Homo sapiens: one gene and its partners. The protein of the gene in region 1 purifies or fractionates together with the protein of each later gene. This does not show direct contact. Each region holds a gene or a part of one and is shown in the gene's direction. Other genes may lie near its edges. The genes, in order: PGD, TXNDC5, KYAT3, TXNRD2, TRAP1 and AADAT.

Region 1 (4,456 bases):
GATACAGGTTGCCTTTCTCTCCCTTGACTCTTCTCCCCTTTTGACCTCCCTGTTCATTGTGCCTCGCCCTATTGAACTGTGTGGTGTAAGGCAGAGTAAGGAGGAAAGTCGGTGGTTTCTACAGTTCCGTGCTGTATAGAAGGAAGTTGGCTGCTTTTAGCCGATCTGAGCCATAACATAGGTGAGGAGGGAGGGGCCAATAGCTAGGAGCAATTTATTCATCACGGACTCAAGTATATGTGTAAGTATTAGGATCTCAGAATCCTACTCTCCTCCTGTGGATCCATATACCTCTTCCCCCAGGGTGGCTGGGCCCACCCCCTGCTGGGAGCCATCATTATTTGTGAACTAACAGGGAAGTCTTCCAGCTGCCCTCTCCCCCTCTAACAGGAAGGGTTTGCCTCATAGCCTGTTGCACCAGTCATCTTACAAAGCTTCCTTCTAGAAATGCTAAGTCATCCTGTGTGTGCATTTGGGCCAGGAGAGAGGTAGCTGCTTTTGTGTGTTTGGAGTAGGGTTAGCAGTCTCAAGCCATAGCTGCTCCTCTTTCCTCAGAAATAAAGTCCTCTGTTAGTTCCCTGAGATTTTACTTCATTTTGTCTATGGGGGAAAAAGTGGTTAAAGAGTCATTTATTCTAACTATAAGTTGTCAGTTGAGCAAGTCTTTTATAAGGAATACTTTCTGAAAATACTAAATGTCTTAATATTAAAATACTACATTGACTTTTTAATTCAAATGAAGTAAAGTGGTTAAACTTGAATGATTACGGCTATACTGAAAACCGTAAAATATAAAAACCTAACATTTTTTTGAGAGGTGAGTCCGTAAATGTGACTTATCAATGTAAAATCTTCAAAAAAAAAAATTAAGGTCCTCTAAATTGAATTTGAAATTTTACTCATGGACCAACACTGAGTATTCTACATAACAGTGGTTTTTATTTTATTTTACTGGTTTTAGAGACAGGGTCTCACTGTGTTGCCCAGGCTGGAGAGCAGTGGTGTGATCATGGCTCACTGTAGCCTTGAACTCCTGGGCTCAAGTGATCCTCCCACCTCAGCCTGCCAAAGTGCTGGGATTACAGGTGTTAGCCACCTTGCCCAGCCATAACAGTGGTTTCTATCTCTTCATTTTCCCTCAAAACTCCCTTTTGAATTTCATGTTAATCTTTGTGATTGAATACTCATGTTTGTATTGGAAGATTGTCTTAAGAGTTTTAGTTATCAAATTAACTGTTTAGAGCTTCTTATAAAAGTTCCTTCCGATCCATGTCAACTTTTGTGGCCTAAGGTTGAAACTTTCAGCTCTTTGTATAAACAGACTTTCCTGCTCCACCTTTCTTCTGGTTGCTGTGCGAACTTTGGTAATTTTCATGCGCATCCGTGTGAAAAGACCACCAAACAGGCTTTGTGTGAGCAATAAAGCTTTTTAATCACCTGGGTGCAGGCAGGTTGAGTCCGAAGAGTCAGCGAAGGGAGATAGGGGTGGGGCCATTTTATAGGATTTGGGCAGGTAGTGGAAAATTACAGTCAAAGGGGGTTTTTCTCTTACGGGCAGGGCCGAGGGGTCACAAGGTGCTCAGTTGGGGAGGTTCTGAGCCAGGAGAAGGAATGTCACAAGGTTAATCGCTCAGTTAAGGTGGGGCAGGAACAAATCACAATGGTGGAATGTCATCAGTAAAGGCAGGAACCAGCCATTTTCACTTCTTTTGTGATTCTTCACTTGCTTCAGGCCATCTGGATGTATACATGCAGGTCACAGGGGATATGATAGTTTAGCTTGGGCTCAGAGGCCTGACAGTAATCTGTTTCCTCTTCCCGATCTCCCCATGTAGGAGAAGCTGTCTTTGCTCGGTGCTTATCATCTCTGAAGGATGAGAGAATTCAAGCTAGCAAAAAGCTGAAGGGTCCCCAGAAGTTCCAGTTTGATGGTGATAAGAAATCATTCCTGGAGGACATTCGGAAGGTGGGACACAGTCCCTGGCAGTGGTCTTTGTTGGTCCTGCGGAAGGCAGTGGGGGTGGGGGTTGTGGTGGGAGAACACTCGAGGCCACAGGATGGCAGGTGGAATGAAGTTCAGCCTTGACTTGGATCTTGACTTACAATGTTTTCCTAGAATATTGGCCCTTCTGGGATCTCCACTGCTGATGAGAATAAGACTGGTAGACATAAGGCGGTCACTCTCCTAATGGCAATCCTAGTAGGTCTCTGTGTCACTCTTTAGGCACTCTACGCTTCCAAGATCATCTCTTACGCTCAAGGCTTTATGCTGCTAAGGCAGGCAGCCACCGAGTTTGGCTGGACTCTCAATTATGGTGGCATCGCCCTGATGTGGAGAGGGGGCTGCATCATTAGAAGGTAAGTGAGAGGCAGCCCAGGGTCCGACGGGAAGGACTCACACGGCTGTGCAGAAGTGCGATCTTAGGACACTTAGCTTGAGCAGTTTCCAGGGATGGGCACTTAGCCCCATCACTGGACACTGGCACAAGATAGGCTTAGATTATGTGGTTCCCTTCTTCACTGTACCTCAGTTGCTGTAACTAGATTGTCCACACTACACCTTTTTTTTTCTTTTGAGACCAAGTTTCGCTCTTATTGCCCAAACTGGAGTGCCATGATGCGATCTTGACTCACTGCAACCTCTGCCTCCCGGGTTCAAGTGATTCTCCTGCCTCAGCGTCCTAAGTAACTGGGATTACAAGGGCACGCCACCATGTCCGGCTAATTCTTTTGTATTTGTAGTGGAAACAGGGTTTCACCATGTTAGCCAGGCTGGTCTCGAACTCCTTGCCTTGGGTGATCTGCCCGCCTCAGCCTCCCAAAGTGCTGGGATTACAGGCGTGAGCCACTGCGCCCGGCTCCGCATTACACCTACTACACTACACCTTTTAAAGTACTTCTGTGAACTATCGTGCCCTCTGGCCTTGCCTCTTGGGAATTTTGCTCTGTATTTTCATTGAAAATGCCAAATCATAGAAAACGTAGCATTTCTACACATGACGTTACATCGTTCTCATGTTGGCTGAAGATTCATTTGATGAATCTGATTTTTCTGAAGTAGATGATTCTGGTGATTCAGATGATTCTAATATTAGTTCTCTTTAGAAATAACGCCAAGAATAGTTTTTATATTTTATTTTCATATTGAAAATCGTCAGATTTTCTTCAGCCTCAAAAAGCGTGTTTATGTAAAATTAAATGAGCGCTGGCAGCGAGCTGCACTTTTTTTCTAAACAGGAAAAGGGTTAACAGCTTGAAGAAATGAGAAATGTAACTTTGTTTCACTAGGGTATACATCGGCTTCCAGCTTACTTCCCTGTTAGAGTTAAGATTCATTGCATTTGGCCGGGCGCGGTGGCTCACACCTGTAATCCCAGCGTTTTGGGAGGCCGAGGCAGGCGGATCACGAGGTCAGGAGATCCAGACCATCCTGGCTAACACGGTGAAACCCTGTCTCTACTAAAAATACAAAAATTAGCCGGTTGTAGTGGTGCGTGCCTGTAATCCCAGCTACTGGCGAGGCTGAGGCAGGAGAATCGCTTGAACCTGGGAGGTGGAGGTTGCTGTGAGCTGAGATCGTGCCACTCCACTCCAGCCTGGTGACAAAGCGGGACTCCGTCTCAAAAAAAAAAAAAAAAAGACTCATTGCTTTTTTCCCCCCTTGATTATTTCAGTGTATTCCTAGGAAAGATAAAGGATGCATTTGATCGAAACCCGGAACTTCAGAACCTCCTACTGGACGACTTCTTTAAGTCAGCTGTTGAAAACTGCCAGGTATGTAGCCTAGGGCTGGTGCCATGGTTACTCTACCTCCCTGGGGCCATCAGTTGTGATGTTTGGTTTTTTGTTTTTTTTTTTTGGTTTTTTGTTTTTTTGAGACAGAGTCTCGCTCTGTCACCCAGGCTGGAGTACAGTGGCATGATCTTGGCTCACTGCAACCTCCGCCTCCTGGGTTCAAGCGATTCTCCTGCCCCAGCCTTCCTAAGTAGCTGGGACTACAGGTGTGCCAACATACCTGGCTAATTTTTTTTTTTTTTTTGTATTTTTAGTAGAGATGGGGTTTCACCATGTTGGCTAGACTGGTCTTGAACTCCTGACCTCGTGATCCGCCCACCTCAGCCTTCCAAAGTGCTGGGATGACAGGCGTGAGCCACCGCGCCTGGCCTAACCATCAGTTTTTCATTTACCCACATTGATATGAATGAAAATCTATCCGCGTCACCAGGGGCAGATCACTAATCTCTGGCCGTGCGTTTTGTGCTCAGGACTCCTGGCGGCGGGCAGTCAGCACTGGGGTCCAGGCTGGCATTCCCATGCCCTGTTTTACCACTGCCCTCTCCTTCTATGACGGGTACAGACATGAGATGCTTCCAGCCAGCCTCATCCAGGTAAGCCTGTGGAGCAGGGATTAACCTGGCTGGCCCCTCGGGGGCGTGCGCCATGGACTGTCCTGACC
Region 2 (5,482 bases), on another chromosome or scaffold:
GACGGGTCTTAGGTGTTGAAATAGTATTTTTACCCCCGTTTGCTGACATAGTGAATAACAACTTAGTCCTGCCTATTTTAGTGCTGGTAGAAAATAAAAAAGAAAGCAATGACTTAGAACAAGATGTTTCATGAAAATGTTGGGCAAGCAGCAGCTTTATGAGATTTAAATGAAAGAAAAAGCTTGAAGAGCTGTGCTTGTTGGTAAATTAAGTTTATAAAATTAAGGACGGATTATAATCTTGACATCTTTGCAGTCTTACCTTTATTATATACCAACTACTCCTGTTTAAAATTCACTTCTTGCTCCCTGTTGATTTTAAAACCCTCTAAGCTTCAGCATGAGAGTAAATTCTAAGCTGGCATGTGAACTGGTCTGGGTCCCAGTCACCGACAGCCAGGCTAACCCCCCTCCCACCACCACCAAATGTCAAGCCAGGGCCCTGACTCAAGCTACCAGGTGCTGACTTTACTTGCTCGAGTTAAAATGTTGCTTCCTAAAAACCGGCATGTTTAACTGAGCTATTAATACAATAAATCTTGCCTCTAAAGTCTTTCCTTTACTCCTTTTAGCTCAGGTATGTTTTAGCATAGCTTTCAGGAACATTCTCTTCAAAAACTGCACCTTGCTGGCAGAGTTGCTACAGAATGTGGATTTTGAAAAGAATATTTGTAACGTACAAAGTGTCCAGTAGCCCCATTAGCAAGAAGGTTCATGAAGAAACTGACTGGGAAGTTGATCTGCTTTTATTCTCAGGTTGATTGTACACAGCACTATGAACTCTGCTCCGGAAACCAGGTTCGTGGCTATCCCACTCTTCTCTGGTTCCGAGATGGGAAAAAGGTACGTCTGCACTTCTTAGTACTGAGAATTCTTCATCTCTTAACCCCATCAGGCTGAGCTACTGAGTGGTTTAATGGGCACAGTGAATTGCCAATCTTGATTGTTAGGGCACTGGTTTGGAGAAATGTGTATAATGAAACAAACGTCTTTCTCTTAATTGATAAGATTTGGGTTGTGGAGATGAACCTTGAAACATTTCAGTGGCCCAGGTTATCACTAGAATAACCCACATCTTACAGTCACAGGGTAACTGTGCTCTGGTTGTAAACACAAACCTTCAGGCCTTTGAACAGAGCTAAGGCTTGCACTTGGTCCGGTTCTGCCTGCCTCCCTCCCTCCTTCCCTGGCCGATGGTCAGCAGCTCAGAGTTCCCCATCAGCACAACGGCTTGCTGGCAGGCCTCTGCCCCAGACTTCTGTGATGTGTAACCCCGTGGAGGGAAGAGGGGCCTGTACAGTTCTCTCACCAAAGCCGAGGCATTCAGTTATCCTCTCTACATTCCCGTCTAAATATGAACATGCAGACTTTGCACCACCGCTAAGACATCTGGGAGCTCTGACCCGGGCAAGCAGGGGTTGCAGGAAGGCTTAAGTGATTCAGAACACCTCAGTGGACTCACTCAGCCGCGTGCCCGTGTCTTGGCCAGGTGGATCAGTACAAGGGAAAGCGGGATTTGGAGTCACTGAGGGAGTACGTGGAGTCGCAGCTGCAGCGCACAGAGACTGGAGCGACGGAGACCGTCACGCCCTCAGAGGCCCCGGTGCTGGCAGCTGAGCCCGAGGCTGACAAGGTGGGTGCCTGCTGGAGTCGGGATCCCCATAAGTGGCCCGTGGCCCCCGGCCCCCCACCTCCCCACCCTCAGAGGCCTCCTCAAATGCTTTGGACAAAATGACAGTTTGGGGACACAGTCATCTGATGGTTGGCTCCAGTTGCGTTTTCAACACGTATTTTTCATCGACTTTCACATGCTTTCAGGGGCGAATGCAAACAAAAGCTTTCCTTTTGAAAACATGAAATGGATGTGAGACAAATCCCAAGACAATATTTGGTGTCAAAAATCTCTAGAGAATCCTTCCTTTCCGCTTCATTCATTTTAAAGAATGACTCTGCTGGGCATGTTTCTGCTATGAAATCTCGACTGCTGGCCCCGGGGCCCTGATTCTATTCCTGACCTTGCTCCGGGCATTTTCCTTTACCCGTTGTAAAGGCCCCTAGAAGACCTGTAGCCAAGAGGGCATCCGCAGCGATCAGGCCAGTGACTGTAGCTGTAACCTGCCTAGGCAGTCCTGATGCACTGAGGGGCTTCCTTCCTTCACTCAGGTAGCAGGAGGTTTCAGATTCATTTGTTCTGCTTTATGAAGCCCTTGTTATGTCACAGGCACTGTTCTAGGCCACCAGGGAATAAAAATAAGACCGGTTTCCTGCCTCTGAAGCATACAGGTCTCTGAGGCAAATGGTGAGAAGACACACAAGCCAATGGCAGGGGGCTGGGGCAGAAATGTGTGCAGGGCTTGGCTGCTAGAGAGAAGTGGGGGCAAATGGGCAAGAAGTGTCCCTAAGGAGCTGATTGACGGGATCTGTGCTGGACAGATAGGCTGGGCAGGGCTGCCACTGAGGGGCTGCACCAGGAGAGGCACAACCCGAGAATCAGCCGGCATTTCTGCAGGGCCAGAGCTGGGGCTGGGGGAACACAGTGGGAGACAGGTCAGGGTGTGGTGTAGGATCCCTGAGAGTGAGAGAGGAGCTGGAGTTGAGAGTCTGTGGGCAGCTGGCCAAGGATTAGGAACTGTATCCCATATTGACAGGGAGCCCATGGAGGCTCTGTGCAGATTGGAGTTGTAGGAAAATGACCGGCATGCACGTGTGCTGGAGGTGGGAAGCTGCTCTATTAGGCCTTTAAAGATGATGCGTTCCCTCATGCTGCAGCCGTGACTGTGCGATGGCGAGGAGGAGAAAGCCAGCATAAGGAGTCCAGCCGCTGTGCAGCGCGGAGAGGGAGGGAGGGTCCGAGGCGAGTCTGATTCCCGCATATCTGGTGGAGGATGGTACCCAGCACAGGGGCGGGGCCAGAGCTCGAGGAAAGGGATGAGCTTGGTTTTCAAGGTGTTGATCTTCAAGGCTTTCGGCTGTGTAGGTGGCAGTGTCCAGTGGCAGTTCCAACCATGAGCCTGGGGCTGCGGCAGGAGGTCTGCACTGGACGAGAGTGCCCGTGTCATCCTCTTCAGGTAGAAGTCATGCCTGAAGGCCAGGAGTTTGGATTTGGAAAAACCAGTGGGGCCACCAACCCCTCCTCCCTGGTGGGGCCACACCAGGCCTCCTCACCCCTACAACCCTGTCCCTAGTTGGGCTCTTGTAGGTCGGGGATGGCCTGAGTGTTGTTTAAAAGTTGACGTTTTGGTTGAAGAAGTAAACAGCTGATTTTGTAGTTGTCAGGACCACTTATGTTAGAGGAGTGTATGTGTCATGGTGGTTACAAAGGTCATCCCAAATTGAGTATAATTATATACCACGGATGTTTTCATCGCAGCACCATTTCTATTTATAATGCAGTTTTCCACCATGAAGTGGGTCTTTTCAGTGCGTGTGGCGTCATGTTTCTGGACATAAAGATGGTAGTGTTCCACAGTGGCCCCCTTGGCCTCCGTCACTGACATGTTACTCGATGCCAGACTCAAATGGAGCAGCCCTGGTACACTTAGCCACGTGATAAATCATCCCATTCCTGCTCTCAGGAGAGAATCGCAGATCCATTTTTGGAGAAACACATAGACGTCATTCTGTAAAGAACTGTCAAGGGAGAATGGCTTTAAAGCAGACTACCATGTAGCACCTTTCCCTTAAATTCTCCAGCCAGAGCTTCCATCAGCGTTTTTCACATTGACTTAGAACAGGCTGCTTTCCATTTTTATGTTCAATGTAAAACAGGTATCATTGCCTTTGCTATTGTAACTAGGTTCTTTCTGTTGCATAGAGAGGATGTCACAAAGGGTGCTAGGAGAATAGGGTGGCCAGTGAGAAAAGCGGCTGAGGATGAGACTTCAGTGGGTATCCTGGAGACTCCAGGCTTAGAGGTGCAGACTCAAGTGTCAGACACCCAGGGCTGCCTGGTCCACACCACAGCGCCCTGGAGAGTTTTCAACCTGCCTCATCCCCAAAAGACAGTCCCCCTCCCCACCTTCATCCCCTGTACAGTGTCCAGCCACCTCCTCACCACATCTCCCAGGCTTGGGACCCAGGGACTTGCATTGATCTCTCTGCCCTTCAGAGGCTGCCAGCCTCCCTTTGTGTGTAGCCTATGAAATGCAGATTGTGTAGGTATTTCTGTGTGACCTTGGAGCCTACGTAACTGCATTTTTAAAAAATTACTGATTCGTGTATCTGCAATCCCAAAGCATGGCCCTGCTCAACTTTAAGGGATGTACTTGAACTGTGGCTTTTTCCTCCCTTGAAGGGCACTGTGTTGGCACTCACTGAAAATAACTTCGATGACACCATTGCAGAAGGAATAACCTTCATCAAGTTTTATGCTCCATGGTAAGTGGCTGTTTAATTAGAAACTACTTTGTCCATGTGTACTAAGTCACATCATGTTTTTCAGCTCATCTGCCACCCCTCCAGACTCAATGTTGGGCACATGTTACATTTATATGTAGGTCATGTTGTAGGAAATAAGGAACCGTTATCATGCTCCTATATTCAAATATTTTAAACTTCAATGGCCTTAATTATATATGGAGAATGAGGCTACAGTTATATCAACTTTGATTATATATGGAGAATGAGGCTAAAGTTATATCAACTTTGGAGAAAACATAAAAATGGAGGCAAATTATGATGGCCATATTCAGTTTTGTGGTATCTGCACTTTTCCAAATAGATGGCTTTTCTTTTTGGCTAAACAATGAGTGTCATGATGTAGCTTTGCTCCTCGGTTCTTTTAAGTACTCGGATTTCTTTTGTAGAGAAATCCAGTAGAGTCTGTTAGAGCCATTCAGTATGCTACGCAGTTTCCTGAACCTGCATGCCACGTGGTCTTGGAGACCAGAGCAGAAATGGATTGCAGGTAGTGTGAGATCCAGACAACCTTGGTTCTAAGACTTACCGTGAATGACTGTATAGTAAACTTGGATGTCCTTTAATTCCTTTGAACCCCAGTTCCCTCAGCTGAAAAATGGGAGTAACTTTTTGTCTTCACAAATAAAACAATCCATTTGGAAAAGCAGAGTGTTAGGACAACAGTAGATTGTTTATCTAAACATGATAAAGGCGTCACTTTTCTTGTTTGTTACACTCCACATGTTCCTGAGAAACTAACCATAGGGGTAAAAAGTTAATAAGCACAGGACTTGAACGAACCATAGCAATGCCTTTCAAATCATTTGCAACATTTAAAAACCTAAAGCTCCACAGATCAAGTATCAAAAAGGAGGATCCCCTTTGGCTGAAGGGGAGCCATCCATACGGCAGGAGGGGGTCAGAAGAGACAAGGGAACAGAGTCGGGTAGAAGGGAGGGTTTGAACCAAACTTAATCATGGCCTTGATGCTCACCCCACATCGCTGAAGTACCAAGGAGGCCTTAAAATGGTTTTGAAATTGTGAGACCATAAGCAATCAAATCTAAAATGTCTTTGGCATTCA
Region 3 (4,657 bases), about 79 Mb from region 1:
GAGACAACCGATAGCCAGACTTGCTCAGAATAGAATATAAATATTAACAACCTAACAATGTAAACATTCAATTGACTGAAATTTTAAAGAACGGTAATGCTATTAATATCCTTCATCTTACACTGGATTGAGAAATAGTGGTATATTATTTGAAATTGTAAACAAAACTAACAGAAGAAAGAAGTAACGTAGGACTTCCAGTTTTAAAATGGTAAACCCAGCCCTCCCCTAATCTCTTTTTAGAAATTATTTAAAAACAACTAAGAGAATAGAAAACAAATTCCCCAGTGTTTAAGGAAAGGCTGCTAAATACTGTGAAGGTGATGGTAGAGGGAAGATCCCTAGAAAGGATCCTGCTTTTACATCTTCAAATTACAGACAAAGCCAGCAGGCAGCATACTCATTATTGAGAACAGTAGGAGCAGTCGCTGCACTGGCAGCAGGAACTTCTCTAGACCGTTTGGCATGATGGAGGAAACGGCAAAAACATACAGTCATGTCATCTGGAAACTATGTAAGGCAAGGTGGAAAGGAGACTCTGGTTGGTCTATAGATTTCCTCATTTACTCCTGTCATTTTGCTAAAAGCTATGTTGAAGCAATGCGGAAGAGATGTATTAAACTGGGGATAGCCAATTTAATTATTTGGTAAGAACTGTGGTCTAAAAGAACTCCCACCCACTGAACCCTACATCAACTGTATTAAATTTTACTATGAGACAAGGAGAATTTCTGCTCTTTTCTGGTGCTGCCCCAGCTTCTCCCTTATACAAATCAGCAAATCTATCTTCAAATCACAGACAAAGCCAGCAGGTAGCATGCTTATTACTCAGAACAATAGGTATAGTGCATGCTTTGGCAGTGGAAAACAAAGAATTCAATCAAAAATGATTAATAATCAAAGAGGAGGGGCCAGGTGCGGTGGCTCACACCTGTAATCCCATTACTTTGGGAGGCCGAGGCAGGAGGATCACTTGAGGTCAGCAGTTCACAACCAGCCTGGCCAACATGGTGAAACCCCATCTCTACTAAAAATACAAAAAATTGAGGTGGGTATGGTGGCACATGCCTGTAATCTCAGTTACTTGGGAGGCTGAGGCATGAGAATCACTTGAACCCAGGAGGCAGAGGTTGCAATGAGCTGAGATTGCTCCACTGCACTCCAGCCTGGGTGATGGAGTCAGACTCTGTCTCAAAAAATATAATAACAATAATAATAATAATAAAAGAGGAACCAACTGTGAATCTATATAGGACAGTATAAGGAAAAGAGAAAGGTACAAGGAAAAACAAGTGTTAGAGAATATTCGCCCAAAAAAAATGTTGCCATGGAGCAAATAAAATTAGTGCTATTTCAGATTTAAAACCTTTAAAATGAGAAAGCAGAGATTTTACGAATTCAGGGAAGATAGAGTAAGATATTATAAGAAGATCAAATGGGAGCTATCAGAGTTCAGGTAGGAAATTGAAAAGAAAAAATAAAGCTATTGGAAATTATGGTGACATTATTAATAGAAACACCACAAAGAACACTAAATACTTCTGTAAGGACATTAAGGATGGAGATAAGTGAGCAAAAGGAAGTAGAAAGGAACAAATAATTTTTAAAATATTAGGCAGAAAAATTATTGATGCAGAGGAAAAATAAAATATGTGGAGTTGCCAGAAAAAAATAAGAGCAGAACAAATGGAACCTGCATATAATAATAATTGTCACACAATTATTAACACTGAGATATACCTCGCTTGATATATTGGGCTTCAAAGACAATTCCTTTGGTCACCTAGACAGTAAGATCAAGGCCTCCAGAGGGGCCAGAAGAGGAGGATCAGTATGGACCCAGACTCTTCTTACATCAGCAGTCAATATTGGCAGATAGTGTGGAAGTAGCTGGAAGTTTCTAGGGAAAGTGGACACACCTAACTCCACCTCTTAGAAAGACTAAAAATCAAAGAATGACAAAAACATACCAAGAAAATAGAAATTGAAAGAAAGCAGTTTGAATTCAGAGCAAAATAAAAGTGATAAAAGTAAATAAATTTAAGGCAAAAATAGCACTTTATAATATTATGGGTAAGATCCTTAGTAGTTGTTAAACTTATAAAAGTTGTCAAACTTATTTCATAGTAAGGGAAATGAAAAATAGAACTGCAAAGAAATTTTATCTCTTAGATTGGAAACAACCAAAACAACTAAAAGTTTCATAAAACACTCTCACAAATTGAGAGTGGGAGTATAATTTGTAAAATCTCTATGGTGGTTAGTTTGAAAATTTCTGTTCAGATGTGATTTCCCATACCCTTTGATCCAACAATTCTACCTCTACAAGTGTTTTCTTGTGGATTTATTTGCACATTTCGAATGACTTATATTCAAGGATTTTCACTGAGGCATCATTTGTAATAGCAAAATATTGTAAACAACAAAATTATTCACCAGTGGGGGCTGCTTGAATAAATGATGCTACATTCAGATCAACCTAAATGCCCATCAATGCTGTCATTGGATAAAGAAAATGTGGTACATATACACCATGGACTACTATGCAGCCATAAAAAAGAATGAAGTCATGTCTTTTGCAGGAACATGGGTGGAGCTGGAGCCTATTATCCTTGGCAAACTAACACAGGAACAGAAAACCAAATATCACATGTTCTCTCTTATAAGTGGAGCCAAAAATAATGAGAACTCATGAACACAAAGAAGGGAACAACAGACACTGGGGCCTCCTTGAGGGTGGAGGGTGGGAGGAGGGAGAAGAGCAGAAAAGATAACTGTTGGGTGCTGTGCTCTTAATACCTGGGTGATGAAATGATCTGTACAACAAACCCCTGTGACATGAGTCTACCTATGTAACAAATCTTCACATGTACCCCCAAACCTAAAATAAAAGTTAAAAATAAATAAACAAGAACAATAAAAAATATACAATTTTAAAAAGAAAGATGGATGAAAATCTCTGGAAAAATATATAATGAAATCCCAGTGTTGTCTCTGGAGAGAAAAACTGAGTGGCTGAGGAAGATAGGTGGGAAGCTGACTTACTTTAAAACAAATATTTTTAAATGCTCTCAACCTAAAAGTTTCAAGAACTTTTTTCTAAACTATTTCAGAGTAAGTTGTCAACTTAATTACTGAGGATGCTCCGATCACCCCCATATACTTTCTTGTGTATTCTTCATAAACAAGACATTCTCCTCCCAAACCACAATATAACCCTCAAAATCATGAAGTTAACCTTGATACTCCATCTAATCCTCAGATCTGATTTAAATGTCATTCATTGTCCCAATAATGTCCTTTTTATAATAATTAATTAATTCAGGCTAGAATCATGCATTGCATTTAGTTGTCATGTCTCCTTCAAGCTAGAATGGTTTCTCAGTTTTCTTTGACTTTCATGATCTTGATACTTTTGAAAATTATCAATGAATTATTTTTAAGAAAGTACCTCAATTTAAGTTTGATGTTTCCTCATGCTTAGACTCAGGCTATGCACTTCGGCAGGAAACCACAGAAGTGATGATACTCTATCCTTTTCATTGTATCAGGTGGCACATGATTTCATTTATTCCTATTACCAGTGATGTTAACTTTAACCACCTGATTAAGGTGGTGTTTGCCAGTCTTTTCTACTATAAAGTTATACTTTTTCTTGTTAAATAGTAAATATTTTGTAGTAAGGTACTATGAAAATATTCCATATCTCATTAAGCAATTTATTTATTAACTTATTCATATGTATCAATGTGGACTTCTGGATTTTTATTTTGTAGTACAGTGGGCTATAATTTATTATTATTATTACTTATTTTGATACTTAGATTTTCCCAGATTTGGCCACTAGTCATGTAACTACTAATTTAATCAATACTTCTGTATGGGATCAATCTCCTGTCAAAGCCACTGTGCATCCCTCACCTTCCCAGTCCCTGAGAGAATACCCTTTTCCCGGTTCAGGCTTTGACATTTTGTGCCAGGCTGCTACACTACATCTTCACCCGACCTGGGCTTTATCACCCATGCCGACCTGTCCTGTCATCCTCCTGGAGAGGTGCCCCCATCTAGGTCTCCAATACCCCATACCAGGCCACCACTGTCACCTACTACACAGAAGCCCTCCTTGCCCCTCTTGGGCACTGACACCATGCCAGATGCCTGCCTCATCTCATCCAGGCTCCAGGACCCTGCATGAGGCCACCCTACCATACAGGTGCCTCACTTACCCCACTCAGACTCTGACATCCTGTTCCAGCCAGCACTATCACCTCATGACACCCATGCTGACCAGCCTGCTCACTCCACTCTGGCTGCAGTGTCCTGCACTAGGGTTGCCAAGGCTCTCCCAGCCCTATACATGGACAGCCGCTTTGCTCAGCCTCACCTATTGGCTTTCAGACTGAATCATTCTGATGGAGAGAGAAGACAAAGAAAAAGAAGTAGAGAAACAGAAGATGAACAACAGAAGGCTGGATTTTCTCTGCTTACACCTCTGTTTAATTTTATGCTATATGTATGAATCACCTATTCAAAAAATAAACTATTTTTCAATAATTACAACTATGAAACCTTGAAAGCAAGGGGCAGAGTAGTGTGAATGAACTAATTTTTTTTTGTTCAGAGCAAAGTATAGATATAGTAGATAATATGTGAAGTT
Region 4 (5,482 bases), on another chromosome or scaffold:
TGCATCCCCAAGAAGCTGATGCACCAGGCGGCACTGCTGGGAGGCCTGATCCAAGATGCCCCCAACTATGGCTGGGAGGTGGCCCAGCCCGTGCCGCATGACTGGTAAGGATCTGGCGCCGTGGCATTCCAGTGCTTTTCTTCTACTCTTGGGTGGAAGAGGAAGAGGAGGCTTATCCTCGATGAGCCCTCATGGGGAGTGGGCCGTAGGATGGGTTTCTCAGCCAGGGGCGACTCTGCGCTGTCTGCCTCAGACATTTGGGAATGTCTGGAGACAGTTTTGGTTGTCACTGGGGAAGGGTTTGCTCCCCTTTGCGGGGAGCCCAGGGATGCTACAGCCATGCACAGCACAGCCCCACCAAGAACAGTGCATCTCCAAGGCCAGGAGTGCGGGTGGGAGGCCGCTTCAGCTGAGCTCTTCTGGGAAGGGGACCACGTGGCCCAGCCACACCCACATTGGCTCAGATAGGCCTCTGCCTGCAGTGGGTAGCCTTTGGGGCACAGAGCAGCTGCATCTGGAGAGCCGTGGGTCAGAGCCCCTGTTTTCTGTGAGTCCAAAGGTCTGCAGCCCTGAGCCTGGGACAGGCGGTTGCACGTAGGGATGGATGTCACGTTTTGCCACCTTTAAAAGCACTCTTGTTTTTTGATATTTCTATGAATGTACCATTTGAATCTAATAGTCCATCGTGAGGCCCTGCAGCTAACACCTGTGTTGTGGATTTTACATTTTGTTTCGTATCTTCACAGGAGGAAGATGGCAGAAGCTGTTCAAAATCACGTGAAATCCTTGAACTGGGGCCACCGTGTCCAGCTTCAGGACAGGTACTGAAGCTCTCTCCGGGAATGGGCCGCCCTCTGGGCCTTCTCTTGGGCGTTCTGTGCCTGGACACACACTTACTTACTGTGCAGAGCATGCTCTGGCAGGCTCTGGGGGTTCATGTCCTGCTCATGGGTGGGGATGAGGACAAGGAGCAGATGGGAGTGACTGTAGGGGAAGGGGAGACTGCCCTTTGCTGCTGAGCAGAGCCTGGAGGTGCTGCCAAGGAATGAGTGAGGCCACATTGGCAGAATGGCCAGAGCCCAGGGCTGCACAGGGAGGAGGCGCTTGGGGCTGGAAGGCCTCAGGCCAGAGAGCGTGGACATAGCTAGGCCTGGGGCTAATATGTGGTGAGGGTCATCCCAGTGGCAAGCCCCCACCCCGTGAACCCCCTTCTTACTGCACACCTCCAGCTCCTTGGGTGTGGGTGCAGGAGCTTGGTGCTTTCCGCTGGAGCAAATGTCCCTACTTGGTCACCGTTCCTGTCAGCCCCTGGGGATCTCCAGCACAGAGGCCTATGCTCCCCTGGCCTACAACCTTCTCCTGGGGCTCAGCTGCCAGCACAGCAGATGCCTGAAACTGGTACCGCCTCTGGCCCAGCCTTTCTCCCGGGGCTGTGGAGGGGACAGTGGTCCCGCAGAGGTCTGGTGGCTCTCCTCATGCACCATTTGCTTGGCCCCAGGGCGGGTCTTCCTGGGGCTTCACAGCAGGCAGCAGTTTTGTGCTCACTAAATCCAGGAAAGTGGAGCCAGGAAGCCAACTGCTTGCCCTCCACCTGGACCTCACAAGCTCTCCCCTATCCAGGGAGCTAAGCCACATTGTGCTGTGGCATTTCTGTGTTTCTCTGTGGGGCTCTGTATCCCCTGGTACAGTTTCCTGGGGACAGCAGGCTCTGCCCTCCCTCCTCCCTGCCCTGGGCAGCTCCTGGACGGGCACCAAACAGGCCCAGCCCACTGCCTGCTCCGGAGCCACCTGCAGAAGGAGGCTGGGGCGCACCTGGGCTGTTTCTGCTTTTTCACTCTTCTGAAAAGTGCTGCCATGAGCATTGCCCGGCTGTGTCCCGTGGCAGCTTCCTGGCTGTCGAGGTGATTGAAGGGCTCTTGCTGTAGGAACTTCACGCAGCTCAGACAGCCCATAGAGGCACAGGCTTGCCAGTGGGGAGAAGGCAGGCTCAAGCAGGAGGCAGAGCCTTCCCAGAACCCTTGCTGCAGCACGGTCCTTTTGTCATTAGAAAGTGTTGGTCGGGTGCAGTGGCTCATGCCTGTAATCCTAGCACTTTGGGAGGCTGAGGTGGGAGGATCACTTGAGCCCAGGAGTTGGAGACCAGCCTGAGCAACATAGTTTTATTGCTACATCCCTACAAAAAATAAAATGAACTAGCCAGGTATGGTTGCCCATGCCTATAGTTCCAGTTACTTGAAACAAGGCTTCCGTGAGCTATGATCATGCCACTGCACTCCAGCCTGGGTGACAGAGTGAGAAGATGTCTTTAAAAAAAAAAAAAAGGGTGGGGCGCGGTGGCTCATGCCTGTAATCCTAGCACTTTGGGAGGCTGAGGTGGGTGGATCACTTGAGGTCAGGAGTTCAAGACCAGCCTGGCCAACATGGCGAAACCCCGTCTCTACTAAAAATACAAAAATTAGCCAGGCGTGGTGGCGCAAGCCTGTAATCCCAGCTTCTCAGGAGGCTGAGGCAAGAGCTGAGGCAAGAGAATGGCTTGAACCTGGGAGGTGGAGATTGCAGTGAGCCAAGATCGTGCCACTGAACTCCAGCCTGGGCGACAGAGTGAGACTTTGACTCAGAAAAAAAAAAAAGAAAAGAAAGCGTGGGTCATTTGTTTCTGTGCACTATGCTCCCAGCCACTGTTTTGCCAGCCTTGTCATGCCCGTTCTCTTGGTGTTACCACACCCCTGAAATCAGAAGGTGACACCATCTGGTGGGCACCACAGCTCCCTGCTGGAACATGTCCGGGTGATGAGGACTGTCCCCAAGAGAGGTCCAGCCACCTCTTGCTGCACACCAGGGCTGTACGTGGCCTCTTAGGACCGTGCTGAGCTGGCTTCCGTCCCTGCTTTGACACCTGTGGTTAACATGTCCCTGGGATCCCTGGGGGACAGGCGAGGTGCCCCCACATCCCCTCCATGCTTCTCAGCATGGTTGCCGCTTACCTCTTGGTCCATCTGAGCCACAGCACCAGGCCCTGCTGGGGGCTGGAGCTCCCTTTTACCAGTGTTCCCTATTGATCCAGTTGGTGAGGTTTAATTTGCAGAGGAAGTGTTTGAAAATCTTATCTTTATCTTTCAGAAAAGTCAAGTACTTTAACATCAAAGCCAGCTTTGTTGACGAGCACACGGTTTGCGGCGTTGCCAAAGGTGGGAAAGAGGTGAGCATCTGACTTACTCGCGTGGCTCCTTGTGGACCCTTCTGCAGACCTTGGGCACCAACTGCAGCTGTGTTTGGCCTGGGTGCTGTTCTTAGTAACACGTGCTGCTGGAATCAAAAAGGTGGCTTCTTTTGAGGCTGGGCACTTGTCTTTAACGTGATCAAATAATTTGCTGCCCTGCTGCTCGGAGTGGCATGGCAACAGGGTTGGTGACCACACCCTTTTTGCAGGATTTTTTGGGGATTTGAGGGTGCCTTGAAGTGCTTGGAGTTAGAACATCTCCCTGTGCTTTCTGCCTGTCCCCCTCCTGCCAGGCTGATGGTTGATGGGATTCCAGCTCCATAGGGCCTCTGAACTGCTGGCCAAGGGTCCACGCTACAGGGCAGGGGCCGTGGGAACTGCTGGCCAAGGTCTGTGGTGCTCAGGCCCTCCGGTGGGGTGATCACCATGCACCTGTCTGACCCACGGCTTTCTCTTTTTCTCCTCAGATTCTGCTGTCAGCCGATCACATCATCATTGCTACTGGAGGGCGGCCGAGATACCCCACGCACGTGAGTGTCCCCAGAGCATAGCGTCCCTGCTGCCGTGGCCCATTCCCGGCCTCTTTGAGGGATACGTTTTTACACACGTGCTTCCCACAGCAGCAGCTTGCACACCCTTTCCCCCTATACTCACTATCATCACTTTCTGCTTTCCAATTCTCTTGAATCCACACTGCTGAAATGTGGGGTCCCCAGTGGCCTCCACGCTGCCAGATCCTCAGGACAGCTCTCGTTCTGCTCTCCCCCTGCCCCGCTGGATCTGTCCCCTTCCACACCAGGATCCTGCTTCCTAAGTCTCCATTGCTGATTCCCCCTTTTCCCTTCAGCCTCAGAATGTTGGAACATTCAGGATATAAGCCTCATTCTTCATCTTCCTCCTTCACGTCCCCCAGTTTAAAAAAAGTTTGAAATAAAATTCACACGCTATAAAATTTAGCCTTTTTTAGGGTACAATTCAGTGGTTTTTAGTACATTCACAGAGCTGTGCGGCCATCAGTCACCACCATCCATTGCCAGAACTCCTTCCATCATCCCTGAACTGAAACTATTCCCATTAAACCCTACTCCCCAGCGCCTCCTCCCCCAGCCCCTAGAAACCACCACCTACTTTCTGTCTCTATGAATGTGACAACACTAGGCACCTCGTGTAAGTGAAATCGTACATGTAAGTCCTTCTCATGTAACTGGTACGTGTGTGTCCCTTAGTGACTCGTATGTGTGTGTCCCTTAGTGACTGGCTTACTTCACTGAGCATAACATCCTCCAGGTTCACCTACATTGTAGTGTGTGTCAGTATCATTCCTTTTTATGGCTAGATACTATTCCATTGTATGGATAGACCACACTTTGTTTATCTACTTGCTTGGATAAACACATGTGTTATTTCCACTTTTTAGCTATTATGAATAGTGCCGCTGTGAACATCTGCAAAGAAGTTTTTTGGTGGACTTCAGTTTTCACTTCTCTTGGGTTACACTTAGGAGCAGAACTGCTGGGTCATGTGGTAACTTTATGTTGAATCTTTCAAGGAACGTTTCAAGGAACCTCAGACTGTTTTCCACAATGACTGTGTTTTACATTCCTTCCAGTGGGGTGTAAGGGTCATGGTTTCTTGTTTCTTCACGTATCTTGTAATTTTTTTATTGAAAGCTGAACATTTCAAATAATTTAATGCGATAACTTTGGAAACCAGATTCTCCCTCTGCCCCAGGATTCTGTTGTTACAGCTGCTTATTTGGTGACTTTTCGGAACTGACTTTGTAGACTCTTATTCTTTGATGTATGTGGCCACTGAAGTCTTTACTTGGTTAGCTTAGTGGTCAGCTAAGAACTGCATGGAGATTTCCCTAAACTAAGAACTCTCCCGGTCTTTGCTGAGGGCTCTGTGTGCGTTTGGAGGGGATGCCTTCCACACTCAACAGGCAGCAGACAGCTCTGCCCTAGCCTTCACTTCCTGCTTCTGCAGAGATCAAGGTCAGCTGGAGGTGAGGGTTCAGGGCCTCGTTGGTCCTTCCTGATGTGTGCACAGTGCTGTGCATGCGCCTGGCCTAGGTTCCCAGGAATATGCTGGAACCTTTCAAAGCTCCAGCAGACATCTCATACTTTGGCTTTTCCTTTGAAGCTTTTTGGGCAGTCTGTTGTTGGCTCTAACTGTTACCTATCCCCTCAGGCAGCTGTGAGAAGAAAACCTCAGACAAATGCCCCCAGAGAAAGGCTTTTAGCCCTGGCTGAGCTCCGGTGA
Region 5 (5,482 bases), on another chromosome or scaffold:
CTACTTGCGGGAGTATTACTGCCACCTGTGTTTTTTTTGTTTTTGTTTTGGTTTTTGTTTTTTTTTTGTTTTTTTCAAGATGGAGTCTTGCTCTGTTTCCCAGGCTGGAGTGCAGTGGCACGAACTCGGCTCACTGCAATCTCCACCTCCCGGGTTCAAGCAGTTCTCCTGCCTCAGCCTCCCAAGTAGCTGGGGCTACAGGCATGCACTACCGTGCCCGGCTAATTTTTGTATTTTTAGTTGAGGTAGAGTTTCACCATGTTGGCCAGGCTGGTCTTGAACTTCTGACCTTGTGATCTGCCTGCCTCGGCCTCCCAAAGTGCTGGGATTACAGGTGTGCGCCACCGTTCCCAGCCCTGCCATTGGCTTTTTAACCAGGTGAATTCCTGTAGATTGGGTAGATTGAAAGGACATGTAGCTGAATCATTGGTTTTAAAAGGAATGGCTCAGTTACTTCATAGCCATATAATTAAGAAATGTGGCTAGAAGGTAAAAAATTGGCCAGGCCTGGTAGCTCATGCTTGTAATCCCAGCACTTTGGGGGCTGCGGCGGGAGGATCCTGTGAGTTTAGGAGTTTGAGACCAGCCTGGGCAACCTAGAGAGACCCCCATCTCTACCAAAAAACCCTTTTTTTTTTTTTTCCAATTAGCTGGGTGTGCCTGTGGTCCCAGCTACCCAAGAGGCTGAAGTGGGAGGCTCCCTTAAGCCTTGAGAAGTCGAGGCTGCAGTGAGCTGTGATCACGCCACTGCACTACAGTCTGGGTGACAGAGTGACAGTGTCTCAAAAAAAAAAATATATATATATATATATATATACACACACACATATAAAAGAAATTAATTTTGAGATAGCTAAATTAAATGCCATATTAAGAGCAGGAGGCTATTCAGCAATGCTGCTGAGAAGAAGACAGAAGGACGTGGGTCCTTCTAATGTAACTATGTGTGTCGGGTTAGTGATATGCACCTCGAAGGAGAAATTAAGACAGCACATTGCCATGTTAGTTCACACTTGCCAGTATTTCAGCATTTGTCAGGCAATGGAATGTTCAAGCGAATTTTCCACGAGGCTGACTTTAAAACATTTCATTTTAACCATTATGATGAGAAGTCTTTCTAGAACACTCCATCATTTGATGGCCCATGACTGAACCTCTCTTGGATGTTTTCAGGGTCATTATTACGGGTGTTAATGTTTGGTCTTCTGTTTTAATATGTAGGCTCCCGTAGGGCCATTGAAATGTGAAGAATCCTTCGTCTATGAAGTGTCCCCACATCAAAACTGCATTGTGAGTGTTTATATTTTTGGCCTCTCTTACTGTGGCCTTAACTTGCAGGTCTGTCTGGAGCCCTGTTCTCTCCTTTCCTAGTTTGCAGATGTGGCTGGGAAACTTGTTAGCATCAAATTGTTAGAATGAGATGGATTTCATATGGGGCCAGTAGTCTTCCATGAGCAAAGCTCAGGGTGAGGGCTTCAGGCCCATATTTTGACTATTCCGAGGTGCCCTTTCGCTTTTTGTTCTTTTTCTTTATGTTCAAGGAGTTATGTTTCCTGATGAATGAAGTATCAGTATATCATAGTAGAGAACGATTAGACCAGGTTCTGGAACACAGGAAACCTCAAGAAACAGTGAGTGTTGAGAATGCCAGAGCTAAGAACTCAGACATTTGTGAGGGAATACAGGTCTTTCTGTTCAGAATGTTCATGTACTTAAGAATCTTCTCGCCAGGCGCGGTGGCTCACGCCTGTAATCCCAGCACTTTGGCAGGCTGAGGCGGGTGGATCACCTGAGGTTAGGAGTTTGAGACCAGCCTGACCAACATGGAGAAACCCTGTCTCTACGAAAAATACAAAACTAGCCGGGCGTGGTGGCGCATGCCTGTAATCCCAGCTACTTAGGAGGCTGAGGCAGGAGAATCGCTTGAATCTGGGAGGTGGAGGTTGTGGTGTGCCGAGATGGCGCCACTGCACTCCAGCCTGGCAACAAGAGCGAAAACTCCGTCTCACACACACACACAAAAAAAAGGGAAACAAAGGTAAACTGGGAAGGAACCGTGTGTAATCTTCCGTACCTTGCATTTTCCACTTATATTCTGGGGTTTGTTTCCTGTCGCCACAGAGCTCTGGTATTCCATAGCGAGGATGTTTTGTAATTTATGTAACCCTCTCATGGCGGACATTTAGGTTGTTGCTGAGTTTCCCCAAGATAACAGACGGCATTGCCAACAGTTTCTCACACCTTCACCAGTGCTAGAATGACAGTATTTAAAACATCTGTCAATCTGGTAGTGAAAATGCTATCTCGTTTTAAAGTGCATTTCCTTAGTTATGAGTGTGGTAAAACATCTTTTACTAGGACGTAAAGCCATTGATGTTTCTTGTTTTTGTGAATGGCCATTTTTCTCTTGAACCAATGGCCTTTTTCTTTTTTTTTTTTTTTTTTTTGAGATGGAGTTTTGCACTTGGTGCCCAGGCTGGAGTGCAGTGGCGTGATCTTGGCTCACCGTAACCTCTGCGCTAGCCCTTTTAAATAACTTTTAAAAATTGAGACAGTGTCGGGCCAGGCACGGTGGCTCACGCCTGTAATCCCAGCACTGTGGGAGGCCGAGGCGGGCGGATCATGAGGTCAGGAGATCGAGACCATCCTGGCTAACACGGTGAAACCCCATCTCTACTAAAAATACAAAAAATTATCTGGGCATGGTGGCGGGCGCCTGTAGTCCCAGCTACTTGGGAAGCTGAGGCAGGAGAATGCCGTGAACCCAGGAAGCGGAGCTTGCAGTGAGCCGCGATCGCACCACTGCACTCCAGCCTCGGCAACAGAGCAAAACTCCATCTCAAAAAAAAAAAAAAAATTGAGACAGAGTCTGACTCTGTTGCCCAGGCTGGAGTGCAGTGGCGCCATCTCACCTTACTGTAACCTCCGCCTCCCGAGGTTAAGCAGTCCTCTCGCCTCAGCCTCACAAGTAGCCGGGATTACAGGCACGCGCCACCATGCCCGGCTCATTTATTTTTATTTATTTATTTATTTATTTTGAGATGGAGTCTCGCTCCGTCGCCCAGGCTGGAGTGCAGTGGTACAATCTTGGCTCACTGCAACCTCCGTCTCCCAGGTTGAAGCATTTCTCCTGCCTCAGCCTCCCTAGTAGCTGGGACTACAGGCACCCGTCACCACGCCCGGCTAATTTTTGTATTTTTAGTAGAGATGGAATTTCACCATGTTGATCAGGCTGGTCTTGAACTCCTGACCTCATGATCCATCCGCCTCAGCCTCCCAAAGTGTTGGCATTACAGGTGTGAGCCACTGCTCCTGGCTTTCTGGCTAATTTTTGTTTTTTTTTGTATTTTTAGTAGAGACAGGGTTTTGCCATGTTGGCCAGGCTAGTCTCAAACTCTTGACCTCGGGATCTGCCCGCCCCCACCTCCCAAAGTGCTGTGATTACAGGCGTGAGCCACGGCACTAAATTTTATTTTAGAGGCAGGGTCTTGCTTTGTCATCCGGGCTGGAGTGCAGTTGTGCGATCCTGGCTCGCTGCAGGCCTGACCTCCTGGACTCAAGTGATACTCCTGCCTCATCCTCCCAAGTGGCTGTGACCTCTTCCTCCCAAGGAGCATGTGCCACCATGCCTGGCTAATTAAAAAACATTTTTTTTAGAGATGGGGTCCCACTATATTGCCCCGGCTTGTCTTGAACTCCTGGTCTCAAGTGATCCTCCTACTTCTGCCTGCCAAAGTACTGGGATTACACGCAGGAGCCGTCGTGCCTGGCCCCCAGTTTTTTTCTTAATGTGTTTGTCTTTTTTTTTTTTTTTTTTGAGTTAGAGTCTCGCTCTGTCTGTTGCCCAGGCTGGAGTGCAGTGGCACGATCTTGGCTCACTGCAGCCTTCGCTTCCCGAGTGCAAGCAAGTCTCCTGCCTCAGCCTCTGGAGTAGCTGGGATTACAGATGCCCGCTGCGACTCCCAGCTAATTTTTGTATTTTTGGTAGAGACGGGGTTTCACCATGTTGGCCAGGCTGGTCTCGAACTCCTGACCTCAGGCGATCCACCCACCTCAGCCTCCCAAAGTGCTGGGATTACAGGCATGAGCCACCTCACCCGGGTGTTTGTCTTTTGACTTAAATTTTTATGTGGTCCTTATATTTATGGCCTTTTGGGTTATATATTTTGTTTAGAAACATTTCCTCTTAAGGCCGGGCGCGGTGGCTCACGCTTGTAATCCTAGCACTTTGGGAGGCTGAGGCAGGTGGATCACGAGTTCAGGAGTTTGAGACCATCCTGGCCAACATGGTGAAACCCCGTCTCTACTAAAAATACAAAACATTAGCCGGGTGTGGTGGTGGGCGCCTGTAGTCCCAGCTACTTGGGAGGCTGAGGCAGGAGAATGGTGTGAACCCGGGAGGCGGAGCTTGCAGTGAGCCGAGATCCCGCCACTGCACTCCAGCCTGGGCGACAGAGCGAGACTCCGCCTCAAAAAAAAAAAAAAAAAAAGATTTCCTCTTAAATCATTTTTTTTAAAAACTCAAGATGCCTGGCAGTTTAGGAACTGCAAAGCAAAACTACAGTGAGTTAGCACTTCCTACTCACTAGGGTGGCTATAATTAAAAATTAAAGAAACAACAACAAAAAAACAGGTGATACAAAATGGATAACTAGGATGTGGAAAAATCAGAACCCTCCCACACTGCTGGTGAGAATGTAAAACGGTGCGACCTCTGCAGGAAAACATTCTTGCAGCTCCTCACACAGTCAAACCGAATTACCATATGACCCCACAGTTCTACCCTGAGGCACATACCTTGTAGACATGAAAACATGTCCACAGAACAGCCTACACATGAATGTTCATAGCAGCATTATTCATAATAACCCGAAAATGAAAACAATCTGAAGGTCCATCAGAAGGTGGAAACGAGGCTGGGTGCGGTTGGTCATGCCTGTAATTGCAGCACTTCAGGAGGCCAAGGCAGGAGGATTGCTTGAGGCCAAGAGTTGAATGCCAGCCTGGACAACATAGTGAGACTCCATCTCGAAAAAAAATTTTTAAAAATTGCTGGGTGTGGTGGCACATGCCTGTGGTCCCAGCCATTTGGGAGGCTGAGGTGGGAGAATTGCTCGAGCCCAGGAGTTTGAGGCTACATTGAGCTGTGATTGTGCCACTGCACTTCAGCCTGGTCAAAGAGCAAGAACCTATCTCAAAAAAAAAAAAAAAAAAAAAAGAGTGCAAATAGGCCAGGAGTGGTGGTGCGCCCTTCTAATCCCACCTGCTTGGGAGGCTGAGGTGGGAGGATCGCTTAAGCCTGCCAGTTGGAGGCTACCATGCACCATGACAGTGCCTGTAAACAGCCACTGCACTCCAGGCAACATAGTGAGACCCCCACCCCACCCCAAAACAAAAGTTACAGTAAAAAGTTGGAAGCTGGGCCTGGTGCAGTGGCTCATGTCTACAATCTCAGCACTTCGGGAGGCTAACGTGGGTGGAT
Region 6 (5,482 bases), on another chromosome or scaffold:
AGCCAATCTTCAAGCTTACCTATTTTTCCTTCTGCTGGGTCCATTTTGATGATGAGAGCCTCTAATGAGTTCCTCAGTTCAACAATTCTGAGTTCAGTATTTCTCAGTTCCAAAATTTCTGGGGTTTTTTGTTATTTTTATTATTTCAATCTCTTTGTTAAATGTCTCTGATAAATTTCTGAATTGCTGTTCTGAGTTACCTTGAAGATCACTGAGTTTTCTTAAAACTGCTATTTTGAATTTTTGGTCAAAAAGCTGACAAATTGCCATCTTGTTAGGATCAGTCACTGGATTTTTGCTTTGTCATTTTGGGGAGGTCATGGTTTCCTGTTGGCTATTGTTTCTTGTATGTATACATCAGTTTTTTGCATTAAAGGATTAGTTATTTATTCTAGTTTTGTTTGTTTGTTTGATTTGTCTGGCTTGCTTTGCTTTTTATTGGATATATTTGCTTAGTAAATCTCTATTGTTGGGTCACTGCTTCCTTGTTGGCATCTTCCAAGGTGGCACCTTAAGTCCAGGTTTAGTAAATAATTCGAGAACAGCCTGTCCCAAATCAGGGAGGTCCCAAAGGATTTATTCCATTGGCATGAGATGGCTAGCAAAAGAATTATACCCAGGAACCTCTGGAACATTCCTCCTGCAGTGTGGTGCTGCTGAACAGTCACTCTGTTTTGGCATGCCTTTCGCTGAGTTACAGTGCAGAGTTTCCAGGGCTTGGGATGGTAGTCCTGCCTCCCGATTTTGTCTCTGCCTGTCCTCAGGGATGTTTTTCCCTCCAGGCAGTCATGATGCTTCCAAAGGGTTAAAGGCAAGGACAGGTCTCCAGCCAGGGAACCAAAGATGGTGGGGAAAACTCTTGGCCACCTCAATCTCACTTTTTCCAGTGTAGAAGCCGTGAATTAGGGGGAGTTTTTCCACGTGCTTGGTGCCAGGCAGAATTGGGAGGAGGGGTATCATAGATGCTGAAGTATGCCTTTCTTACCATCTGTTCAGAGTTTTTTCACTTCTCTGTAGTCCTAGGAACTGACTCATCCTCATATTTGAGTTCTGGGTTGTTTCTGGTGTAAATTTTAGCACTGTATATTTGTTAGTGGTTTTGTGGGAGGGAATGAAGTCAACTTGCTTCTACACCACCATTTTGGAACTGGAAGTCTCCCCCACCCTTTTGAAAACACTGTCCTCCTCTAGCTCTCTCAGTAGCATGTTGTGTGGTTCTCCTCCAGCCCACTTTCCCTCCCTTCCTTGCAGTGTCCTCCTCTACCCAGCCATTATTTATTGGAGTTCCCTGTAGCTCAGTCCTTAAACATCTCTCCTTAGTCTATGTACTTTTCCTGGGTATCTTCATTTACATTCACATGATCAACCATATGCCAGTAACTTCCAGGCTCCTTCCAAATCCATTTGTCCATCTATCCATCTGACATCATCACAGGGTGTTTCAAAGGCACCTCACACTAAAACAAATCATCCTGTCACTCAGATATGGATGGCTTTTTGGTTATGTGTTTCAGTGAATGGCACCACCCCCACCATCTATCTAGTTCCATAACCAAGTATCTAGGCATCATTCTTGACACCTCCTCTTCCTCATTTCCCTATTGTCCATAATCATGTTCCATTACTTTTCATTTCCTAATACCTCTCAGTTCTTCTCTACAATTCCTCTGTCACCACTCTACTTTAAGATGACCCTTACCTGTTCCAGGCCTGTGGCAGTAACTTCCCAAACAATCCTAAAAACTTTCTAAACTTTCCACATGTATTCTCACCCTTCTTTCATTCTTTCATACTGCAGCCAGATTGATCTTTTCAAGACGAGTATCTAATCATGTGACTCCTCCTCCCCACTCTCTTCCTAAAATCCTTACTTGCCTCCCTTGGCTCAAATGCCTACATGGTTGGTCTCTGCCCACTTCTGTCTGATGTCACACCACTCTTTTCTCTACATTCTGCCTCAAGACACATAATTATTTTGGTTTTTCAAATCTAACTGTTGTTACCCCGTACACCAACTCATCGCTTCCTCCAGGATGCCTTCCCTGAATTCCCTGAATGCCTAGGTCTTCCTACAATGAGCTCTTATGTCATTGTGCATCTGTACTTAATATCACTCACCACCGTTTTTAATTTGCACATTTATTGGGTAGTTATTTAATTGGTGTCTAGCTTTCCCAGTGGACCAGTAGCTCCATGAGAGTAAGAACCATGTCATTTTGCTATTTTATCTCTGACACTTTACACAGGCCTGGCGTATAGTAAACATTTAATAGATTTTCAAAGAAGCAATAAAAGGAATAAATGAATGTTAGCAGCCAAACCTCTGTTCACCTTTCTCTGGAACAGGAGTTGGCAAACTATGGTTTGAGAGCCAAATCCAGCCCTTCATCAAATTTTGTAAATAAAGTTTTATTGGAACTCAGTCACACCCATTCATTTATATATTGTCTATGGCTACTTTTTCACTATAGAGGCAGAGTAGTTGCAGGGTAGTTGCAACAGAGATACTATGACCCGCAAAGTGTTTACTGTTTGGCCCCTTATAAACAATTTGCTAATTCTTACTCTAGAACCATGTGAGCTCAAACTAAAAAATGGGCTTCTGAGCATGGAAACAGTACTAACCTATGCTGACTAACAAGCTAACCTATGCTTCTTTTGTTAGGTGTTTGAAATGATCATTAATCCTGGAGATAATGTCCTCCTAGATGAACCTGCTTATTCAGGAACTCTTCAAAGTGTGAGTATACATTTTTACTAAAGGCAACTCTCTTGTAGTAAATAAGAAGAAAACTTATAATAAAGGTTTTATAATAACTTTATTATAATAAAGTTAATATCTTATTAACTTTAAAATAATCTGTCCACAGAAAAATGAAATAGCATATTTTATCCATAAGCAGGATAATCTTAAAGGATATATACAAAGTATGTGAAATGTATTCTCTTCTTTATACATTTCTTTTTTGAAATCCAAGTGTATAGGCATTAAAATTAGATTATGCAAAATCATGTCCAATTCTCTTAATATTTTACTTGAAATGTAACTTAAATTACAAAAATTTATTTTTTATTACTATCTTATTACCATATGCATAAGTACAACTATGTTATATGTCAGTTTAGTATACTTATATGGTATAATGACGACTTTCCATTCCAAGGTTAGATCCGTGGAACTGTGATTTACAGAATGAGGAAGCTGATGATCTGACTCTGCTCTGCACTGGTCAGAGCACATTGCTGAGCATTAGGTTTGTTTGGGGCAGTCTACTTTAAGACAGAAATGTCCACAACTGGAGCATACTCAGAGAAAGATAGTCAGAGTAAATAGGGAATTGGAAGCCATATCATATGATGAATGGTTGTAGGAACTGGAGCTATTTTCCCCAGAAAGAAAAGACTCAACAGAGGCATGAAAACTGTCCTCAAATACATAGAAGTTAGCCATGTGACAAAAGAATTAGATTTATTTGTACATGACCTTAGGTTAATAGAACTGGAACCACAGGGAAACAATTTCAGCTCTGTATAAGAACTTGCTAACCATTGGCCTTACCGGACTTCATAATGGGTTACAACATTGCCCATCACTGTAGGTGCTCAGTCACTCTTGACTGCCACCTAACACAAATATGGCTAAAGTAATTCTAGCTTAGAGTAGGGGAATTCAATGCGATGACTTTTATGCTCTATTGATTCCAACTTCATGGATCCTTTTATTTTTTTCAAATTTTATTTTATTTTTATGAAAATCAACATATAAAGCAATATATAAAACAATTCCATTTGTAATAGCATCCAAAAGAATAAAATACGTAGGAATAAATCTAACAAAGGAGGTGGAAGACTTGTACATTAAAAACTGAAAAATTTTGCTGAAAGAAATTAAGCAAAACTCAAATAAATGGAAAGACTTCCACAGTTCATAGATTGGAAGACTTAATATTGTTAAGATATTAATACTACCCTAAGCAATTTACAGATTCAATACAATCCCTATCGATATGCCAACAGCCTTTTTTGTAGAAATGGAAAAGCCAGTCCTCAAATTGATGTGAGTTTAAAGGACCTAAATAGCCAAAATAATCTTGAAAAAGAACAAATTTGGAAGACCCCCACTTCCCAATTTCAAAACTGCAAAGCTGCAGTAATCAAACAATGTGGTACTGGCATAAAGACAATCATATAGACCAATAGAATAGAACTGAGCATCCAGAAATAAACCCACAAATCCAGTTGATTTCAGTAAGGGTGCCAAGATCATTCAGTGGGGGAAAGGATAGTCTCTTCAACTGTGGTGCTGGGACAACTGGATTTCCACATGCATATAAAAGAACTTGGACCCTTACTTCACACCATATGAAAATTTAACTCAAAATGGATCAAAGACCTAAATATAAGGGCTAAAACTACAAACACTTAGGACATAAGGGCAAATTTTTATGACCTTAGATTTGGTGGATTTTTTAGATATGACCAAAAATATGAGCAACGACAACCACAAAAATAGATAAATTGAACTTGAAGATTTAAAAGTGGTTGTGTATCAAAGGACATTATGAAAACAGTGAAAAAAGAGTCTATACAGTGGGAGAAAATATTTATCATAATATATCTGATAAACCTTTAATAACCAGAACATATAAAGAACTCCTACAACTCAACAACAGAAAGATAAACAACCCAATTTAAAAATGGACAAAGGACTTAAATAGACATTAGTCTGAAGAACATGTGCAGAAGGCCAATAAGCACATAAAAGATGCTCAACATCATTAGTAGAGAAATGCAAAGCAACATAAATCAACGTATGAAAGCCGCAAGTTCCATGATCGTGTAGTGGTTAGTACTCTACAATGTGTGACTGCTGTACCTGCAGTCTGATTATTTGGCAAGACTCAGGCTTGGGGAAAAAATTTTTTTAAATAGAGAAAAGCAAATCAAAACTACTGTGAGATACTACCTCACACATACCACGATGGCTATTATTTAAAAAAAAATAGTGAATATGTGAAGAAACTGGGTTCATTCACTGCTGGTGGAAGGAAATGTAAAATGGTATGGCCACTGTGGGAAAGTTTGTCAGTTCCTCAGAAAATTAAAATATAATTACCATGTGACCCACAATTCCACTCATGGCTATATACCCAGAAAGGATTGAAAACTGGGACTCAAACAGATACTTGTATACAAATGTTCATTGCAATATTATTTACAGTAGCCAAAAGGTAGAAGCAACTCAAGTGTCCATCAGTGGATGAATGGATAAATAAAATGTGGTATATACATACAATGGAATATTATTCAGCCATAAGAAGGAACACAGATCTGATACATATTACAGTATGGATGAACCTTGAAAGCATTTTAACTTTAAGAAGCCAGACACAAAAGGACAAATATTGTATTATTCCAATTATATGAAACATCTAGAATAGACAAATTAGTGGAGATAGAAAGTAGATGAGTGGTTACCAGG

What was found.
Region 2: the proteins of PGD (region 1) and TXNDC5 fractionate together in Homo sapiens (co-fractionation; one large-scale study listed by BioGRID). This does not show direct contact.
Region 3: the proteins of PGD (region 1) and KYAT3 fractionate together in Homo sapiens (co-fractionation; one large-scale study listed by BioGRID). This does not show direct contact.
Region 4: the proteins of PGD (region 1) and TXNRD2 fractionate together in Homo sapiens (co-fractionation; one large-scale study listed by BioGRID). This does not show direct contact.
Region 5: the proteins of PGD (region 1) and TRAP1 fractionate together in Homo sapiens (co-fractionation; one large-scale study listed by BioGRID). This does not show direct contact.
Region 6: the proteins of PGD (region 1) and AADAT fractionate together in Homo sapiens (co-fractionation; one large-scale study listed by BioGRID). This does not show direct contact.

Annotation. Positions count from the first base shown.
Region 1 is NC_000001.11:10,415,152-10,419,607, forward strand, and holds part of PGD (6-phosphogluconate dehydrogenase, decarboxylating), read left to right. Parts: intron 1-1,835; coding exon 1,836-1,966; intron 1,967-2,224; coding exon 2,225-2,358; intron 2,359-3,674; coding exon 3,675-3,774; intron 3,775-4,265; coding exon 4,266-4,388; intron 4,389-4,456. UniProt on the Homo sapiens protein: Catalyzes the oxidative decarboxylation of 6-phosphogluconate to ribulose 5-phosphate and CO(2), with concomitant reduction of NADP to NADPH.
Region 2 is NC_000006.12:7,884,856-7,890,337, reverse strand, and holds part of TXNDC5 (thioredoxin domain-containing protein 5 isoform 1 precursor), read left to right. Parts: intron 1-756; coding exon 757-843; intron 844-1,489; coding exon 1,490-1,633; intron 1,634-4,294; coding exon 4,295-4,377; intron 4,378-5,482. UniProt on the Homo sapiens protein: Protein disulfide isomerase of the endoplasmic reticulum lumen involved in the formation of disulfide bonds in proteins. Can reduce insulin disulfide bonds.
Region 3 is NC_000001.11:88,936,624-88,941,280, reverse strand, and holds part of KYAT3 (kynurenine--oxoglutarate transaminase 3), read left to right. Parts: intron 1-4,657. UniProt on the Homo sapiens protein: Catalyzes the irreversible transamination of the L-tryptophan metabolite L-kynurenine to form kynurenic acid (KA), an intermediate in the tryptophan catabolic pathway which is also a broad spectrum antagonist of the three ionotropic excitatory amino acid receptors among others.
Region 4 is NC_000022.11:19,913,482-19,918,963, reverse strand, and holds part of TXNRD2 (thioredoxin reductase 2, mitochondrial isoform 5 precursor), read left to right. Parts: coding exon 1-104; intron 105-746; coding exon 747-821; intron 822-3,120; coding exon 3,121-3,199; intron 3,200-3,687; coding exon 3,688-3,750; intron 3,751-5,482. UniProt on the Homo sapiens protein: Involved in the control of reactive oxygen species levels and the regulation of mitochondrial redox homeostasis. Maintains thioredoxin in a reduced state. May play a role in redox-regulated cell signaling.
Region 5 is NC_000016.10:3,706,193-3,711,674, reverse strand, and holds part of TRAP1 (heat shock protein 75 kDa, mitochondrial isoform 1 precursor), read left to right. Parts: intron 1-1,272; exon of another isoform or gene 1,273-1,290; intron 1,291-5,482.
Region 6 is NC_000004.12:170,075,767-170,081,248, reverse strand, and holds part of AADAT (kynurenine/alpha-aminoadipate aminotransferase, mitochondrial), read left to right. Parts: intron 1-2,665; coding exon 2,666-2,740; intron 2,741-5,482. UniProt on the Homo sapiens protein: Transaminase with broad substrate specificity. Has transaminase activity towards aminoadipate, kynurenine, methionine and glutamate. Shows activity also towards tryptophan, aspartate and hydroxykynurenine.